Homo sapiens: one gene and its partners. The protein of the gene in region 1 purifies or fractionates together with the protein of each later gene. This does not show direct contact. Each region holds a gene or a part of one and is shown in the gene's direction. Other genes may lie near its edges.

Region 1 (5,365 bases):
ACATGAGCCACTGTGCCCAACCCTTGGTGGTATTTTAAGCCCACTTTTTACAGTAGTGTAGAAGACAGTAGTTCTGTTGTGGCTGATTCATAAATGCAGCATTTTCACATTGGCTACATTCAGAATTATAAGCAGCATTAGGTACCATCCCACATCCCTTTGTGCTGTTGATGCTTAGTGGTCAGACTTTGTAGCTGTCTTCGACCTCTAGTGCAAGCATCAACTTGGTCTTGAAGACAGGCCTTAGTGGGCTTCCAAATTCTTTGGGATATATTTTCTGCGTCACCTAAGAATCTGACTCCAATTAGGCCTTGACCCCATGAGGCTTTTAATGGACACATTGGGGCTTCCTTTGACTTTTCTGAGTGCTCTTGGAGATTCCTGACCTCTAACCTCTATGTAGCAGATTGGCTACATGTTCCTGGTAGGTACAGTTCATGGTTGACTATTGGAGGTTTTCAAATGGATCCAAATTTAGGGATATTTTAGGGCTCTTATTAGTATTCTCTCAGGTTGAGAGAAATCTAATTTATGAAGCATCAAAAAATTAGGAAATAGATATTTATTTGGTTCACCAGGGAAATTTTTCTACTTAATTTTAAATAGGTAACTTTGATCTCAAACTTCTGTAAGGCATGAGATCCTTAGTTTAACAGACTTGCCTTCTTTAGATGAGGGGAGTTAGAATAGAAATGTACTCTGTTGTCTAAATGTTCAGTCCTTCATCTTCCTTACTGTTTCCAGAGAAAAGATAGAGAAGAAGATTAAAGGCAGCAACTCAGCTGACAGTGGTAGCCTCCTTTCAGCTTAGGGCTCCTTCCTGCCTATCTGGGCAGCTCAGAGTGCTGGAGGAAGGAGAAAGTTTTCATTCCACATGCAAAAGGGCAGGTCACTTGGCATCCTTGAGCTTCTGCATCAGCCAAAGGGAGTTACAAATAAAACCCTAAAGTACATTCAGATGCTAATGATGATTGTGTCAATGTAAGTGGAATTATGGCTGAGTTTTCCTTATCTTTTGTAATTTTCATATTCGCATTTTTTGTGTTAAAGGTTTTATATATGAAAGTCATAATAGCGTTCCCACTTTACACCTCTTGTGAGGGTTTAGGAAATTACACATACCACTGATTGAAGTTTTTGTTTTTGAAAGACAATCTATAAATTGAAGCTACTGTTTTTTTGTTTTAATCTTAAGAATAAGAGAAATGGGTCCCTTATCTTCTCTGAGCCTTATACCTATTTTTCTTCCCCAAGTCAATGACTTTAGTGTTAATTTAAATCATAACTAACACTTTGTGGAAGGATGAGATTCTTATTACAAGATTTATTTTAATTTTCCATTTATATTGGTTAATTCTAAGGGTGAAAGACAGGTTCATTGTTTTACTAACATCAATTTTAAAATTCATAATTTATTGAAAACAGCCAATCTATCTCTTTTCTAGCTATAAAGAATGCAACTAATTTCCAAGCTATTCCTAGCTTTCTCTAAGTTCATAAAATTGGCAATTAGTTGTCATATATTTGGAGAAGACTGGAAATCCTTCCCCACCTCTCTCCTCTCCCTGCCAAATTATACCTCATCGCTGAATTATGGCTTTAAATATTGCAGAATGACCATGAACATTCTTATATTATGATATTTTAGATTAAAAAATACTTTGTAAGCATATTGACTTTTTATATTAAGATTATATTTAAGTAAAGTAAATATATTCCAAAGTTTTAAATAAAACTTCTGCCTAGATATGTTTAGCTCTTAGAATTTAGACTGTAGTACACCCTGAACTGCTGGATCTGTCTACTTTTCTCTTTGTATCCATAGTATTTGGGGAACCTGGTCCAGTAGTAATCTCGGTCACACACTCTGGTTGTGTGCAACCTAAGTGAATTTCTTAACCTCTGGCGATTGTGATTTTTGTTCACTATAATGGGCATTAGCATCCGCACTTGCCTCTGGGGACTCTTAGTGAATTAACTGTGTTTTACAAATGGCTTGCAGTGATTACAAATGCTTTGTAAATACATGGTGAAATTTTGCCTCTTTAAATTTCCTTACTTTTTAGCATTTTCCAATTTTAATTTTCATAAAGAAATAAAGTATAATCTCTACGTCCCTCTCAGTAAGGCTAAATTTTGGAAAGCACAAAGGGCAGAACCTCCCAGGTCAGAAATTAGGAATTTTAGCCCTGGTTTGCTTCATGGCCCCATTTCAAGGGCTGAAATGACTGTTGGCTATGTGACATAGGGTTGAATCAGAGAGCAGTTCTCAGATGGCCACAGCAGCTCACACTCCACACAATCATCATGGTGCTTCACATTTTTGCCTACTAGACAGTCTTAGATCCATTCCTTTTTCTTTAGAGATTATGATTTAATTTAAATTAACCACTATAGGCTGTGACTCTAGGTCTCACCCACTTTAATTAAGCCCAGAGTCTGTGGCATCGTGAAATTGTTTCCTGGATGAGAAGAATGGTCTGTGTTGCCTGCCCCCATGAGGAGTGTACTACTGAAAACTGCCAAGTTGATCTGACTCTAGTTCTCTGATGGTGCTGCCAGAGAGCAGACCAGACATGTTCCTTAGGGTTCTGCGAAATGTATTGAAATACTTGGTGAAGATAGAATCATCTGCTTTTAACATGAAAATACTAGTTTTGTGAAAATCACATTTCAGTTTGCATATCAGCCTTCTGTCTTATGACTGCTTTGCTCGGATTTCCCTGGTCAAGCACAACATTGCAATAGAAAATTCTTATTGCAATAGAAAACTTTTCTTAGATGTTTCCTCATCTATTAATCCATGAGCAGCATCAGTCTCCCAGTGAAATCCAATTTATGTGTAGCTGTTTTAATTCTTGGGAGAACCCTAACAGTGGTAGCTTGATTTCTCCAGATCCACTGAGAAAAGATACAACATCTGAATACATATAACATGATTTATTCATCTTAAAAATATTTTGTTAAGAGTATCTCTAACTTCATTAATAAAATAAAATTAGAATGTTTTTAATCTTATTCAACCAACCTAATTTTGTAGTATTCCTACTTAACTGAGGGTATCGAGCTAACTTCAGAGGACACAAGTGAGGCAAAACTTCTAACTTAGAAACATCTTTCAGTCACTCCATGATGTGCAGCTGCTTAGCAGTGAGGCCAAAATAAAGGACAAAATTGTAGCAAAGTATGTAAAATATACATAACATATATCTTAAATGCCTCACCTAATTTGTAAATAAAACTGCATTTATGAAATAGATCACACGTATTTTCAATCTTTGTTTAATTTGGAAACAGAACCACAGCTTTTATTTCTTGCTAATATATCAATTATAATTCCTGTTAATTTTAAACTGTGGTCATTTCCGGTTCAGGAATTCAGCATGTGAGACAATTGTTTGCTTTCTGACAGCAATAGGCTGCTGAAAGTCAACGCAGAAAACTGAGCCTCTTAGTTTGCAGTTAGCTGAGAAATAGGTGTTCTGCTTCCTTACATGGTGACTGTTGAGTAGATAAAACACAGAGGTCTACCCCCCCTGCCCCAATATACCTGTTTAGTAGTGAAGCAATTTACATAGTAACTCCATGTGGGGGTGTACTTTTACTCTCTACTCTCACTACACATCCAAGAAGCCTCCCCTAGACTTTTGGTTAATGTGTTGTTGCAAAAATATGAAATGTAATGTACTTTCTGACACATGTAGGGACATACTTAGAACTAGCATTGCCCAGAGTTTATCAAGCGTAAAATGAAAAAAAAAATTAAATGTGTGTGTTAACTTTCAGAGAGAACTACTTTATATCCAAGTCTACATAGACCAGGGTAAAAAATGCACTAAGAGAATGGAGAGTGGGGGTAGGGATTCCATTTTAAACTTTATAGTTTTTCATTTAGTAAGGTTAAGTTGAAATGTCCCACGTGAAAATCTTATTTTTATGCCACTGATGAGCACATGATACCTTGAATATTAAAACTGTGTGAAAGGCAGAATGATGTGTAAATTGCAGAACAGGCCGTTCCTCCATGGCGAGATTGTGAGTGAAGGATTTCTTTGACCCATTGGCACAAAATAGGTATTCTATTCTACTATTATGATGGATTAAAAAATCTTTGATGATGAAAGGGTCTTACCTGCTTGAAATAAGGGGTTACTCCTGCCATTTGCTAGTAACCAAAAATGTGTGCTTCTTTCTAGCTGTTCCTCCGTGTATTTTTAATTGTATGCACTGTCTCTTTCTGTTCTAATGGCTGCCCTCGGAATAGGCTGACCTCTGCTCTCCGTGTGACATCCTGCAGTTGGATTTTCGTCACATTCGAAAGACTGTTGACACTCTGCTGGCACTCGGGGAGAAAGCCCCACCACCAACTTCTGCCCTCCGCTCCAGGGACCTTATAGGCTTCTGTCTTGTCCATATTCTCTTTATAGTGCTGGTCTATATCACTTACCACTGGAATGCTCTGTCCGCATAATGTCTGCACGTGCATCCAAACGCTGTGCTCTGTCGCCCTCAACCTTTGCAGGGTCCTTCCTACCTTTGAGCCTTTGCCTTGCAAACTTCCATCCCTGTCATGTCTTCAGTTATCTCTCGAGTTTTGAAGCTGAACAGTAGCAAATCAGATTTTCCAGAAGCACAAACTTTGTAGAATACAGTTTAGTATAATTCCTCTCACTTACTGAAATACAACGACGACGACTGCAAAGTGTATGCACACCGCATGCTTCCTCATCCACATAGTGCCAGCAGCAGTGCCACGCAGTTCCTCCTCTCCCTCCCGGTGAGCTGCTGCCCTGGGCAGAGGGGAGGAGAATTCCAGGACAAGAGTGTCAAGGACAGGGATTTAGCATATGGAAGTCTTTCCTTTGGGTCAGTATTGAACTAGAATTCTAATTCGGGACTGGGCAATTGAGCTGTATAGGGGCCACCTTGCAGGGAGGACAGAAAACTAACATTTTGGCCCAACTTGATCTATACAAAACTTTAATAATACCACTACTGACCAAGTTGGACGTGTACACGTACTCACACTGCCTTGATGGCCATTCGATTGGATTCCTCCCAAATTTCCTAAAAAGGGAGCCGCGAAGGGCGCTGGGCAGTGTGGCCGCCAACTTCCACCCCGGCAAGCCCCTCTGTCCTATGCAGAAGGGCGCTCAAGGGAAGGAAGTGTCGTTGCTGTTAGAGCCTCACGTGGAGGAGTCACTTAAACACCAGTTTTTTACTGCTTAATTCCTTGTTAGGTCTTCTCTTGAGGCTCTTAGAAAAGCGTTTTCCAGAGAGATTTCTATTTTTGAACAATGGAACGGATCACTGCTTTTTTGCCACATCACATAGTAACTGCCGGTCCAGAATGTGACGGATTCGA
Region 2 (4,615 bases), on another chromosome or scaffold:
TGTTTTTGGTATTTAATGAGAATGAATCCTGGTATCTGGATGACAATATTAAGAAGTATCTCAACAAAGATCCACGAGATTTTAAGCGCACTGATGATTTTGAGGAAAGCAACAGAATGCATGGTATATCCAAAGTTTAAAAAGAAGCCTATGTTGAGATAAGCTCATAGGAATTCCTGTAAATGTAGGAGGCTCCCAGCATCCTTCTCTGAGCCTTTCCTCCTTCCCAGGGGCACCTGGACTGAAGAAAGTCCTCTAATGCTTTCCTTCAGACTGAACCAGCCTAGCCACTGATTGGCTGGCAGCAAAGTCATTGAGGCTTTGTACTAACTTGTAGGGACATGTATTTCTGAATCCTGGGATCTCTAAGCTCTAAGACTGTAAAGTAATTCTTTAAAAACAAATCATCATTTATTGTCATATTTTTATAAGAATATGCCATAACTTCTATTTGTTTAAATTTAAGGGCCAGGTTTAATTGTCTCTGGGATATGAAACACTACCATCAAATTTCTGTTTTAATGTATCTGTGTTACTTCTACATAATTTAAGGTAGTTTGTTGGTGGGAGTAATGTGTTCACATTGACACATCCACAGTTTCTCACCAACAGCTATTTTTGACCAAAAGTGCACAAAAAGGCCTTGCCCAAGGTCACAAAGCTACTTGTTAATATAGATTAGAATATAGTAGCCTGATTCCCCATTCAGCTACTCTTTCCCCTACCAGTTTTGCTTTCTTCTCCTAAAGATGTCTTAGTATGCTCTCCATTTTTAATGAATGCAGGTCATTTGGTTGCACCACAATGCACAGAATCAAAAGTCAGTAGACAGTGGAGGAGTGGGAGTCACCATCATGTAAACTCAGTTTGCTTTGGTCATTGTTAGGTCATGAGCTCAGCCCGTGTGAAGCTCTCTTTTATTTTTGGAGATTCAGCCAGGCTTAAACTATTCTCAACAAGTGAAATATTAAGAAAATACCTTCTAAGTCACTCAATTTTTATTTACATAAACTTGTTTATGCCTTGATTTGTTCTCTGTAGAGTGGTATAAATCTGACTACCTCTCCAATGAGACTGTATTTCCCTTCATAAAGAGATTATGCTGAATAAACAAACAAAACACTGCCACCAAGATACGGCTTTAAAACTGCTATTTCTCTGTTCTCGCTCTCTTTGTAGAAGGATTTCTCAGTTATCTGAATTTTGGGTCTAGAATGGTAGGACACTGCTAGGGGTGAGTGAGATTGTTGCATGTTTACTAGACAGATGAAAATATCAGTGACCTAAAGATCTTCTGGAAACATTTAAAAAATCAGCTTATCTTTTAACTAACCAAAGGTTATTTTCTTATCACCTTTTAAAGCCATTAATGGAAAGATTTTTGGGAATCTCCATGGCCTCATAATGAACGAAGATACAATGACAAACTGGTATTTGTTAGGGATAGGAAGTGAAGTGGACATACATACCATCCATTATCATGCTGAGAGCTTTCTTTTCAAAGTAAGTATAAGGAAAGTGCTTTGGGAAAGACGTTTTTGAACTAACAAATTCAATGTATTTCCAGTGGAAAATAAGAGTTACTTGGCAATAATGCTTGTGAGGATAGGTGAGAATGGAACAGAATAATGTGATTGTACCGTTTCCCTGGTGGATATTTCTTTTCTTTTTTTTTTTTTTTTTGAGACGGAGTCTTGCTCTGTTGCCCAGGGCGGAGTGCAGTGGCACAATCTCAGCTCACTGCAAGCTCCACCTCCCGGGTTCATGTCATTCTCCTGCCTCAGCCTCCCGAGTAGCTGGGACTACAGGTGTGTCCCACCACGCCTGGCTAATTTTTTTTGTATTTTTTAGTAGAGACGGGGTTTCACCATGTTAGCCAGGATGGTCTCAATCTCCTGACCTCGTGATCTGCCCGCCTCGGCCTCCCACAGTGCTGAGATTACAGGCGTGAGCCACCACGCCAGGCCTGGCTATTTCTTAATATGTATATGTATATTATTGTGCTTATAAAAATCTCTCCAAGCCTCAGGTGAGAGTTTTCTCATTAGTGATCTGGGGATAACTCTGACCACCCTGGAATATGCTGTTAATATTGTATATGAAACCACGGACACTGACAGCATTCGTCCCTTTTCCTCACCCTTCCTTTTTTCTTTCCCTTTCCTTCTCCCCACCCTTTTCTTTTTCTGTGTGATTAGCTAACAGAATAGCTCTATCCAGTAAAGGAGCTATTTTGAGCTCTGGCCTAAGCCCTGAAACTTTATCTTGACTTTTGCCCTAGTGAGCTGGGCTGGACCATGTGTGACTTTCTACCCTCTAGCATCAAGCTGTACCATATGGGTGGTGCTCACTGTACAGCAGAGCCATCTGGGGAACTATGTAAAAACCCAACTGCCAGGCCCGACCCAGACCTGCTGAATCAGAATCTCCATGGAAAGGTCCAAATAGTCTGTCATCCGAAGTTCTCAGTGCTTTCTACAAGGAAGTGGAATAGAAAAGAACAATCATATCCAATGTGTGGAGAAAACTGGAATTGATCTTTTCTAGTTAGACACGAATAAACGGTAACTTTAATAAAACATTTAATATCCTTTCTCCTTTGTATATTTCAACGTTGTTTACGACACCAAGTATTAGCCTGCTATGATTAGAGTTTCACATATTAAATGGCTATGCTGCTTTTCAGAATTTGGCTTTTTTAAACTCACATTTTAAAAATTATATTAAAAATTTATAAAATTTAATACACAAAATTATAAAAATTTACATATACACTTTAAAAATAAGATATAATTTACATTGAATACAATTCACCATATTTAGTGTACAGTTCTCTTTTGATAAGCACATACAGTAGTGTAACGAACAACAATCACAATATAGAATACTTTTATTTCCCCCACAAATTTTACCATTGCACCCTCTAGTGTCAACTACTTCCCCATACTTAACACTTGTCAACCACTGTCTCTATAGTTTTGCCTTTTTTGAAAGGTTATGTGGAAATCATAGGTTGTAGCATCTTGAATCTGGCTTGTTTGATTTAACATAGGCATTCAAATTGTATCCATCTTGTTATGTGTATCAGTGGTTTGTTTCTTGTGACTGTTGAGTAGTATTCCATTGTAAGGATATAATGCAGTTTGTTTATCTATTCTCCTGTTGAGGAACATTTGAGTTATTTTCAAGTTTGTTTATTACAAATCAAGTCATTACAAACATTTGTGCACATGTTTTTGTGTGAACATATGTTTTCATTTTCCTTGAGAAAATACCTAGAAGTAGGATTGCTAAGCCATGTGATAAGTGTATGTTTGATTTCATAAGAAACCACCAAACTGTTTTCCAAAAAGGCAGTATCATTTTGCATTTCCAAGGAAATATACGAGAACTCCATATGTTGCACATCCACATATGCAGTTGGTATTTTTAGTTTTTATTTCATTTTTTTCCCTTAGGCATTCCCTCCTTGGGGAGGGGATATAGTGGTATCTCATTGTTTTTCATTTACATTTTCCCAGTGGCTAATGATATTGAGCATCTTTTCATGTGTTTGTTTACCATCTGTCATCTGTAAATCTTTGGTGAAGTGTCCAAATTGTAAGCCCATTTAAAAAAATTGGGTTACTTGTTTCCTTATTGTAGAGTTTGAGGGCTTTATATATTCTGGATACAAATCCTTTTTCAGTGATGTGACTCACAAATATTTGCTTCCAGTTTGTGGCTTATCTTTTCATTCTCTTAACAGCTTTCAAATAGAAGTTCTTAATTTTTGATGAAGTAAAATGAAGTACAATTTTTCTTTTTTCTCTTTTATAGATCATACTTTTGGTGTCATGTATAAAAAATTTTGGCCTTACTGAAGGTCCCAAAAAAGGTCTCTGTTTTCTTTTAGAAGTGGTATAGTTTTAGATTTAGGGCTCTGATACATTTTAATTTTCATATGTGGTTCAAGATATGAAATAAGGTTCATTTTTTTTTCATATATATGTCCAAATGTTCCATCACCACTCATTGAAAAGATCATCTTTTTTTCCCACAGAATTGACTCTTTACTTTTGTGAAAATCATATTGACCACATATATGTGGGTCTATGTCTGGGCGGTCTCTTCTGTTACACTGGTTTATACTCTGCCCTTTCTTGAATGCCACAATGTTTTGATTACTTTAGTATTATAGTAAGTCTCAAAATCAGATGGTGATTGTTTTAGCTATTCTAGATGTTTGCCTTCCCAGATAAATTTTAGAAATAATTTGTTGATTTTGATTTTTAAAATCCTGTTGGGATTTTGATTGGTATTGCACTGAAGCTATACAATGGGTTGGACAGAACTGACATAACAATATTGAGGCTTCCAATCCATGAACATGGTATATCTATCGTTTAGCTCTTCTTTGATTTCTTTCATCAGCATTTTGTAGTTTTCAATATAGAGATCTTGCATATACTTTGTTTTATTTATTTATAACTAAGTATATAAAAGGCTTTGGTAATAGTGTAAATGATAGTGTTTTTATTTTGATTTATAGTTGTTTATTGCCAATATTTAGAAATATAATTGATATTTGCATGTTGACCTTGCATCCTGCATCTTTGCTAAACTCACTTTAGTT
Region 3 (4,615 bases), on another chromosome or scaffold:
TTGTACGATGTACAAATAAAGACAATATTCATTGTGTATTATTTATCTGTTAAACAAATAAGGAAATTGAGACTCGAATAGCTCAAAATAACTTGCCTATTTAGTACAGCTGGTTAGTGAATGCCCTGAGTTTAAAAACCAGCTCCTGATATTTTCATTACATCAGCTATCTCCCTTAATTAACTTTCGATATTCATGATTTCAGTTTAAATTAGTTCACATTTTTTATTTCAACAAAACATTTGATGATTACCCTTACTGTATATTTTCCCATTCTAATGTTCCATTATCAGAATGGAAAATATCAAAAATACATTAGAGGACAAAAATAGTTTTCCCTCTAGTTTTCAAGGTCTTGCTCAGAAATAATCCTAGAATTCAGGGTATATATTAAGTTTTTAAGGTTTTCTTTCTTTCAAAGGAGAATAACACCTTTTGAGCTTCTGCCTTCCCTTCTTTCTTTACTGCACTGAGCTACTCAAAAGCATTTTCACTAAAGTAAATAACTGAGACATTTAGGCCATTTGCACATCATCTGATTTAACTCTGAAAACAGCTTATATATAAAACTGCCCTTTCTGCACATGTACCCCAGAACTTAAAGTATATATATATATAGTATATATAATATAATATATATAAATATGAATAAAATATATTTATATATATATATACTTTAAGTTCTGGGGTACATGTGCAGAAAGGGCAGTTTTGTTACATAGGTATAAACGGGCAATGGTGGTTTGCTGCACCCATCAACCCGTCACCTACATTAGGTATTTCTCCTAATGTTATCCGTCCCCTAGGTCCCCATCTTCTGACAGGCCCCTGTGTGTGATGTTCCCCTGAAAACAGCTTTTTTAACAAATAGGTGGAAATAAGATATACTTTTATGAATAATGAATTCTCTAGGGAAACCAGAGTTTCCTAGCTCAGATTTAGTGTGTACAAAGGTATGGACAATTATCTCAAGTGATGTAATGAAATTATCCCCAAGCCCACATAATTATAAACCAAATTCTTTTTCATTTCTTTTTTTTTTTTTTTTGAGACAGAGTCTCGCTCTGTCGCCCAGCCTGGAGCACAGTGGCACGATCTCGGCTCACGGCAAGCTCTGCCTCCCAGGTTCACGCCATTCTCCTGCCTCAGCCTCCTGAGTAGCTGGGAATATAGGCGCCCGCCACCACACCCGGCTATTTTTTTGTATTTTTAGTAGAGACGGGTTTTCACCATGTTAGCCAGGATGGTCTCGATTTCCTGACCTCGTGATCCGCCCACCTCAGCCTCCCAAAGTGCTGGGATTACAGGCGTGAGCCACCACGCCCGGCCCCAAATTCTTTTTCACCAGACTCTACTTAAAGTTGCCAATAAAGTATAATGTTTGTGTATATAGCAAGTCTGACCCACAGGAATAAACGACTCAACAAAATGCTGAATATTTTATCAGAAAAAGTAAGGTCTTCCTGCAAAATTGAAGAGATTAGATGATATGAGCATTAAACAAAAATTCAATGGTTTATTGAGTTTTAGAGGCTTGTGAGTACACTCTGTAAATGTACCACGCGTTTTACAAATTCTATTGAGTTTATGGAAACTTAAATTATCTAATCAAGGCTGTTCTCTCACACAGCTACTTGTGGGTGGGTGTCTTATTTTCAGGCCTCCAAAGTTGCTTTTGACACTGAATAATTTTAAAAGTCCCAGTATTTGACCTTCTGTTATAAGGACTAGTCAAACTTAACCATATAATTAGGTTACACAACTTGAAAAACAGAAAATATAATGAAGCAAGCAATAAACGTGGCAAAATATGGTGATTAAGAGCATGAGTTCTGGAGTCATGCTGAGTTGGAATTCCAGCACCTTAGCATTAGCTGTGTAATCTCCATCTGGTTACCTATCCTACCTCTGTCTAACTTCACTTGTTTATGTAATGGGGTTATAATAGTATCTTCTTTATGGGGTTATTTTGAGTGTTAAAGAGAATGATCTATGTAACATGTTTGGCACAGAAAGCTATTAATAGGTGTTAGTCATCATTATAATCATCATCAAAAGGAAAACAATACTGACAAGTTTAAAAAATTTGAAATTGTTTTGTTTGTATGGAAAAATAAGTTGGGAATGGTCTCTTATATTCACAGAACGTCAGAAACAAACTTAAAGATCCTCTAATCCACACTCGCCCACACCCATATCCCATTTCTCATTTCTCACATGAGGAAACAAATCTCAGAGAGAGAACATGAGTTGACCAGTATTACAAAAGTGGCTAGTAGTATAAATGGGAATAAAATCCAGGTCTGCTGACTCCAAGTCTAGCACTTTTTCCACTATGTCATGATAACCACCACCACCCCATTATCGCCTTCAATTATTTGGTCATCAGGAATGTGGGGCTGTGGCACAAAAGGCATAAAAACAAAAACATTGACTGTTCATTGAATTTAATAGTTTCAACATGAAGGATTTAGGTAAGCTATACACAGATGAGTAACAAAATTAAACACTGACTGATACAGGTTATTAAGAGGGAGATTTGGATTGTTATTCCTGGAGTGCTTTTAAAACTAAGATCTCCTTTTCATTCATTCTTTCAAAAATATTTTGGATCACTTTCTATGGAATGGTCAATGGCTATTTATGGGATGACTTGCTGCAATCTTGCCTAGATCTTGATGCCATTGAAAGTACCTTTCAACATCAAGGTTTTGTTCATTCTGGACATTTACTCACACCATCTTACTTAATTTTGTAGACTTCCAGGGAAAAGGGGTTTTCTTTAGCAAGTATTTCTGGAATTAATAAACCTATTTTCAGAGAGGTTTTCCCCCTTATGATCAGCCTAAATCCATACTGATGCAATTTAAATTCATGCTGTTCAACACCATATGTCTAAATATCTTTGACTCATATTAAGCTACATCTTAATGTTGTAATTTTTGAACCTATTATATTTGTTCTCTAATGTTTCCATGAGGGTTGCGTGGGAAAGCCACATTTGTCTAGATGATCAATTTTAATAATGAAGGCTGAAGTAGGGCTAAAAATAATTGAGTACATTATAATCTATGGACTTAATGTTCCAGCTTTCCACATATAAGAAGATTAAAGAATTCCTTCATTTTAGGGCAAGACTAGTCTTTGCTCAAATACAACTGTTTGCCATTTAAACATCTATTATCTTAACATCTGAATAAAGTAATACTGCTTATACTAGCATAAATAAATGTCTTTATCTGTGATGTGTGATGTGTGTGTATTCCTATTTGTTTAAATTTCTGCAGATTTATAAAACTTCTTAGTACGCTTTTGTATCTTAAAAGCTAGTCCAGTTGGCTAGTAAGATTTGCTATGTTTCATTTGCTAATGCCATCATATTTGAATTGGTTACAAGAAGGACAGAGCTATCATTTCTACAACAGCTACCAGATACTAACCATGTGTATAGTTGTCTTCTCAGAATGATACTAGTATAATATTATTAGCCCCAGCCTAAACAGACCAAACATCCTCTAGACATGAATACCTTCACACACTGCTGGTGGATGTATAATTATCATAGTCAAATTTGGGAAATTAGTTGGGCAGTATCTGTTCAAATGAATAACACACATACTCCATGCCCCAGCAATCCCAATTCTGTGTGGGATTCTAAAGAAACATGTTGCACAAGGATGCTCATTGCAGCACAGTGGAAACCTGGAAACAATATAAATGTTAATCAGCAGGAAAACATAAAAACAAGCTATAAAGCAAGCATTTTGGAATACTATTAATTGAAAATAATGAGTTAAAACATGTATCTAGTACATAATACAAGAGATACTGTTTGGTTTAAGTTGTAGAACAATGAAAGCAATAATATTACTATTTATACATAGGTATATATGTAAAGACATCTTAACTGACAACAATAGTCACTTCTGGGTAAGTGAATGGAGGAAAGATGGTCAAGAGAAGGTCTTTAACCTTATCTATATAAATGTTTATATTAAGAATGTGTTCATGTGTTATTCCATAACTAAAGAGCACCCCTCTTTTTTCTTGTCTTCTTGAATCTGCTCCTCTTGGGTCTGTGGGCCAAACCTGCCTGCACATGGTTGTATTTATAACCATTTTCCTAAACTGGATAATGTGTACCTGTTTTGTCTATAATCTGTAATTCTCTGCATTTGTCTGAGCAAGTCTTCTCAATTATTAGCAGAAAATCTGAGAATATATGCAAAAGATTCCTAGAAATACTGAGCCTGCAGTATTGCTGTTGATATAAAGGGTGGTGGAGGATGAAAATGTTACAAGTTCAACAACAGCAACAACAAGAAAGAATTCAGAACATTTGGCAGTTTGAGTAAATGCATAGTCCTGTTTTAAGAATACATGTAACACCTACATTATAGCTATAGTTCTGTATGAGTCTGTCAGTGTTTCCCTTGTAAATTAATGATTCTGATTTTTAATAGTTCCCTTGTTCTACAGAAAAAATATTTATACCTTTGTAGGAAGATATAATGGAGTCGTGCCAATTGATTGTAAATTATGGTAAGGTATGGGGAGATTGAGTAACGCCATCATTTCTTTGCACACTAATGAAGTGATTGCAGTTTTGTTGGTT
Region 4 (4,615 bases), 5.9 Mb from region 1:
TGCAGATGAGTGATGTTATAGTCAGTTTTTTCTTTCTAGGTGCAGATGCTAATTTCAGTGTCTGGATTAAAAGGTGTCAAGAAGCTCAGAATGGTATGTGGGTCTCCCTTGGTATTTGTTTCAATTTAAAAAGAAGTAAACATCTGAAATTTTTTTGGTTTAAACAAATTTGTTTTTATCTTTATAATTTCTTTTAAATAGTATACGTTTCCTTAGATGTGGACTTCCAAAGATACACTGGTTTTTGCATAGCTTCTTATGTTGAAAGGGGGATTTGGGTGGATTTGCTTGTATGGTATATCAGTAAGAAATTACTAAGGAGTCTAAAATGAATTCAGGATGCAAAATGAAACCACTTTTCTTTAGTTGAAAGGTACGGAGAATTTGCTTGCTTAATCAGTATGTTTGTGCTATAGAAATCATACAAATAACTTTGCTTAAAAATGCACTGTTCCCTGAAAATGTTTCCTTTTTATGTTTTAATAGGCTCAGAATCTGAGGTGGTAAGTCCAAAGTTTTCATTCTTCATGTTTTTATTATTTTAAATTTCAGCTACCAAATATATTTGAGACAAGACTCAGGATGAGCTGTCTGATATTTAAATATTAAGCAATTCCATTTAAGTGCTGGTTCCTCTAGGCACTGAAATAAAATCATTTTTTGATAAATATAGAAGTTTCCAGTCATGAAAATTATTGGCCTATTTTAATGAATTTAGTGTGTGGTTAAAGTTGATTTCGTGTGTTTTAATATGGTCATGATGATCATTTATCTTTTCGTTACTAAAACCTTATTGCATTTATTTAGGTTCAACAGTTTGAATCACTTGTAGGGCTTTTTATGATAGGCTAAGACAAAAGTTAAAGAAAATTGGAAATTGACAGGGTCTTGCTCTGTCATGCAGGCTGGAGTGCAGTGGTGCCATCATAGTGCACTTGAGCTTCAAACTCCTGGGCTCAAGCAATCTTCCCACCTCAGCCTTCCAAGTAGCTGGGACTACAGATGTACACCACCAAGCCTGGCTAATTACTCTGTTTCTTTAAAACGATTTTTAAAACAATGTTATTTTAGTTTAGGAAGTTGCTGAATCTTAGAACTGGCCATTTTATATAAGCAACCTTTTCTAATCATGCCTTTAGAAGTTTTCTGTTATTTAAAGTTCTGTTATTTTAGAGCAAAAATCTTTTATGAAATTCAATCTAAGATTTTTTAAATGCTGAGCATTCTAATTTTTTTCCGAAAACTAGTGGTATTTAACAATTACAGTTACTATGTCTTTGAAGAAAATTTTCATGTAGTTATTTTATATCAAAATAACTGCAGTGTTGGGTAAATTAATAATACATGCATTTTAATAATACAGTTGCTAAACTGACTTGTAAAAATCTTTCTCTTTCAACTTACCAAAATCAATCTGCATCCCAGTGGACTCATCAGTCAAAAATCAAGTGAGTGTTTCTTTTTCATAAAACAATGCATGATAAATATGCCTAAAGAGGAAGAAACCCTGTAGTTTAATAGTAAGCAAATTCTTACCATGTGATTTTTAAGTTTTTGTTTGTTTTCTAAAATTGTGTAATAGCTTTATGTAAAGCCAATTTTAAGGCTGTTTAAGGATTAATATTTGTACTTCAGTTAAATTCAAATCATTTCTCATCTTTAAAGTTGCTTCACTTGGTTTCATATTATGTTACCTTTCCATATGTTAAGGAGAGTCTCTTCCAGTTAAGTTTATGTTACTACACAGGTAAACAAGTTAGTAGTAGATCTAACAGAATTGTAACTTAACCTGCCTTTTATATTTGGAGCAAATTTTTCATAGGAACATTCTGTATGCGTTGAAAGTTAATATTGCTGAGGGCAGCAATTATAATAATGAATAAGCAACTAGCAAGTCTTTGACTTTTAATTATTCATTAGCCTGTGTACAGCTTGTATTCTTAGGACCGTAACAGAAACACAAGCCGTTGATCTGGAGCTTTGCATCCTTACTGAATTGCAAAGGGAAACCGAGACTCTTAAAGTTCATTTCTTTAATCAAGGTGGTTTTGGATATAATTACCTAAAATGGCCTGGAAAAGTTAAAAACCATCTATTCATGGTAGTTGTGGGGAGATACAGGATGAAACTCCAAGTACCTAGTAGATAAGGAACTTTGACTTGCCCTGGTGGCAGCAGCAGGGGTAGGGCACATAACCATGAAATAATAATTAAGGTGTTCAGAGCATAAAATAATCCCACATCTAACTTAATATACGTGTACCGGACACTGTGCTTGGTCCTAGGGATATAATAGCGACAGGATAAACAGCTCTGCCCTCAGAGAGCTTTTAATCTAGTCTAATTTGAAAGTGAGGATTCCTACGTTTCTAGAGCTTTCAGTACAAAAGATGCACATAATTAGAATCTAGACCCATTAGTCTTTCCATGTATCTTGAAATTGAAGGAAAGTGTTGTATATGATGTTGTGCCTGACACAGTTAAACTTCATATGATTTTAATTTTAGTTCATTTGCCCCTGTTTTGTGTGCTCAAGTCTATCTGCTTCCAACATCAGTTTTGAGAGCTTGGAGTGTTGACTCAGGCTTATTGCTTCACCTTTCTGAGCTTAAGTTTTATCATCTGTAAAATAGGGATTTAAGTGTTTATCTGTAGTATTTGGATGAAATGAGAGTATAAAAACTCTATTGATGGCATATAAATATTAGCTTGTTTAAAATAAATGACATCTTTAATATTTATATTAGTTTAAGCACAACAGTGCTAGAGATGAGTCAGAACCCAGAAAATCATGCAAGTATTTAAGTCTACTGGAAAGGTGTGAGCATCATTTACCTTACCATTTTTTTCCATTAGTACAGAGCATAAAAAACTAGTTATATAAAGTTGTTTCTGTGAATCAGTAGTTGCTTTGCTGTTTTCTTCCTCCAGGTGGGGCTCTTGTTGTTTATCAGACTAGTTTTTGTTTTGACAATAGCTTTAAAAAAATTAGAAGAGTTACCTAAGTTTCTTTTTTTTTTTTAATAGGTATGACTGGTATCAAACAGAATCTCAAGTAGTCATTACACTTATGATCAAGAATGTTCAGAAGAATGATGTAAATGTGGAATTTTCAGAAAAAGAGGTCAGTAGACTGAATCATTTTTCAATGTTGATTACTATTATTTGCAAATTTAGTATATTGCAGAATAATCGATAACGGTTTATCAGATAAATGCTATTTCTTCCTGAGATGATTTGGAAAATGTTGAATAAAATCTGAAGCCATTGCTTTGAGGTAAGAATATGTATGTTGGTAAATTATAGCTGGATGTGCATTTTTTTCTTTAGATTTGAAATTTAAAGCAGAATTTGGTTATATTAGTAAGATAATGTGCTTTGGTTATACTTGTGTGGTGTACTTCATGAAAAAGATCTAGTTAGTTTTGTGATCACACATGTCTTAGAATTGACTAGCCATGTTAAATGAGTATGACTTTTTTTGTTGTTGTTTTTTGAGACAGAGTCTCGCTCTTGCGTAGGCTGGAGTGCAGTGGCGCAATTTCGGCTCACTGCAGCCTCCTCCTCCTGGGTTCAAACAATTCTCCTGCCTCAGCCTCCTGAGTAGTTGGGACTACAGGCACATGCCACCGTGCCTGGCTAATTTTTGTAGAAACGGGGTTTCACCATGTTGGCCAGGCTGTTGTCGAATTCCTGACCTCAAGTGATCTACCCATCTCAGCCTCCCAAAGTGCTGGGATTAGAGGCATGCACCACCGTGCCCAGCCTCTTGAGTATGACTTTTAACAACTTGATTTCTTACCATTTAGTAGAGAACCTTATAATAGATTATTTAAAAGAGGTAGTGATAGAACTGTATGTTTTGCACATGGATCACTTTTTGTTATATATCATTTTGCTTTTGTATGTTTTCTTGAAATCTAAATATCAAATAGGTGTGATTAAATATATGACAAATATTATGAAACTTATTCTTTTCTGCTGTTTAATGATGTCTATAAGAATTCATGTCAAGGATACCAGATGGAAAAAAAAGGTTCTTAAATCTTTGAGAACCTTTTGAGGTTCTTAAATCTAAAATTCCATATATAATGTTTAAAATAATTTGTAACATTATTGAAGATTTGTCATTATTTTGTGTAGGTTTTTTACCCTCCATTATATACATTTACAAAATGTGATGCTAATTTTGTGTTCATTAGTTGTCTGCTTTGGTTAAACTTCCTTCTGGAGAGGATTACAATTTGAAACTGGAACTTCTTCATCCTATAATACCAGAACAGAGCACGTTTAAAGTACTTTCAACAAAGGTAAGACCATTGAAAAGTTTGTTACTAGTAATATTTTCAAAATTATAGAAATACTGGTGAACTAATCACCCATGTGTTTATAAGCTTGTAGATTCTTTCAGCCCTTTAACAGGGACAAGAAAATAAGAATGATAACTTTTGAGTATAAGGGTTATTTTACCTCTCAAATTCTAGTACAGTAAAGAATAAAAATCCACTTAGAGTGTGTGGCATTTGTGTATTTACTAAGACAGATATAATGTTTTTCAATAAAGGGGTTTTTTTAAAAAGATACAATAATCAGCCTGTCTTTAAGATTTGATACT

The links.
Region 2: the proteins of LRCH1 (region 1) and HEPHL1 purify together in Homo sapiens (affinity purification with mass spectrometry; one large-scale study listed by BioGRID and IntAct). This does not show direct contact.
Region 3: the proteins of LRCH1 (region 1) and POF1B purify together in Homo sapiens (co-immunoprecipitation; one large-scale study listed by IntAct). This does not show direct contact.
Region 4: the proteins of LRCH1 (region 1) and SUGT1 purify together in Homo sapiens (co-immunoprecipitation; 2 studies listed by BioGRID and IntAct, with this or other methods). This does not show direct contact.

Annotation. Positions count from the first base shown.
Region 1 is NC_000013.11:46,737,378-46,742,742, forward strand, and holds part of LRCH1 (leucine-rich repeat and calponin homology domain-containing protein 1), read left to right. Parts: intron 1-4,264; coding exon 4,265-4,471; 3' UTR 4,472-5,365. UniProt on the Homo sapiens protein: Acts as a negative regulator of GTPase CDC42 by sequestering CDC42-guanine exchange factor DOCK8. Probably by preventing CDC42 activation, negatively regulates CD4(+) T-cell migration.
Region 2 is NC_000011.10:94,104,628-94,109,242, forward strand, and holds part of HEPHL1 (ferroxidase HEPHL1 precursor), read left to right. Parts: coding exon 1-123; intron 124-1,363; coding exon 1,364-1,503; intron 1,504-4,615. UniProt on the Homo sapiens protein: Is a copper-binding glycoprotein with ferroxidase activity. It oxidizes Fe(2+) to Fe(3+) without releasing radical oxygen species. May be involved in the regulation of intracellular iron content.
Region 3 is NC_000023.11:85,368,777-85,373,391, reverse strand, and holds part of POF1B (protein POF1B), read left to right. Parts: intron 1-4,615. UniProt on the Homo sapiens protein: Plays a key role in the organization of epithelial monolayers by regulating the actin cytoskeleton. May be involved in ovary development.
Region 4 is NC_000013.11:52,662,610-52,667,224, forward strand, and holds part of SUGT1 (protein SGT1 homolog), read left to right. Parts: intron 1-39; coding exon 40-93; intron 94-486; coding exon 487-503; intron 504-1,425; coding exon 1,426-1,448; intron 1,449-3,027; coding exon 3,028-3,124; intron 3,125-4,202; coding exon 4,203-4,310; intron 4,311-4,615. UniProt on the Homo sapiens protein: May play a role in ubiquitination and subsequent proteasomal degradation of target proteins.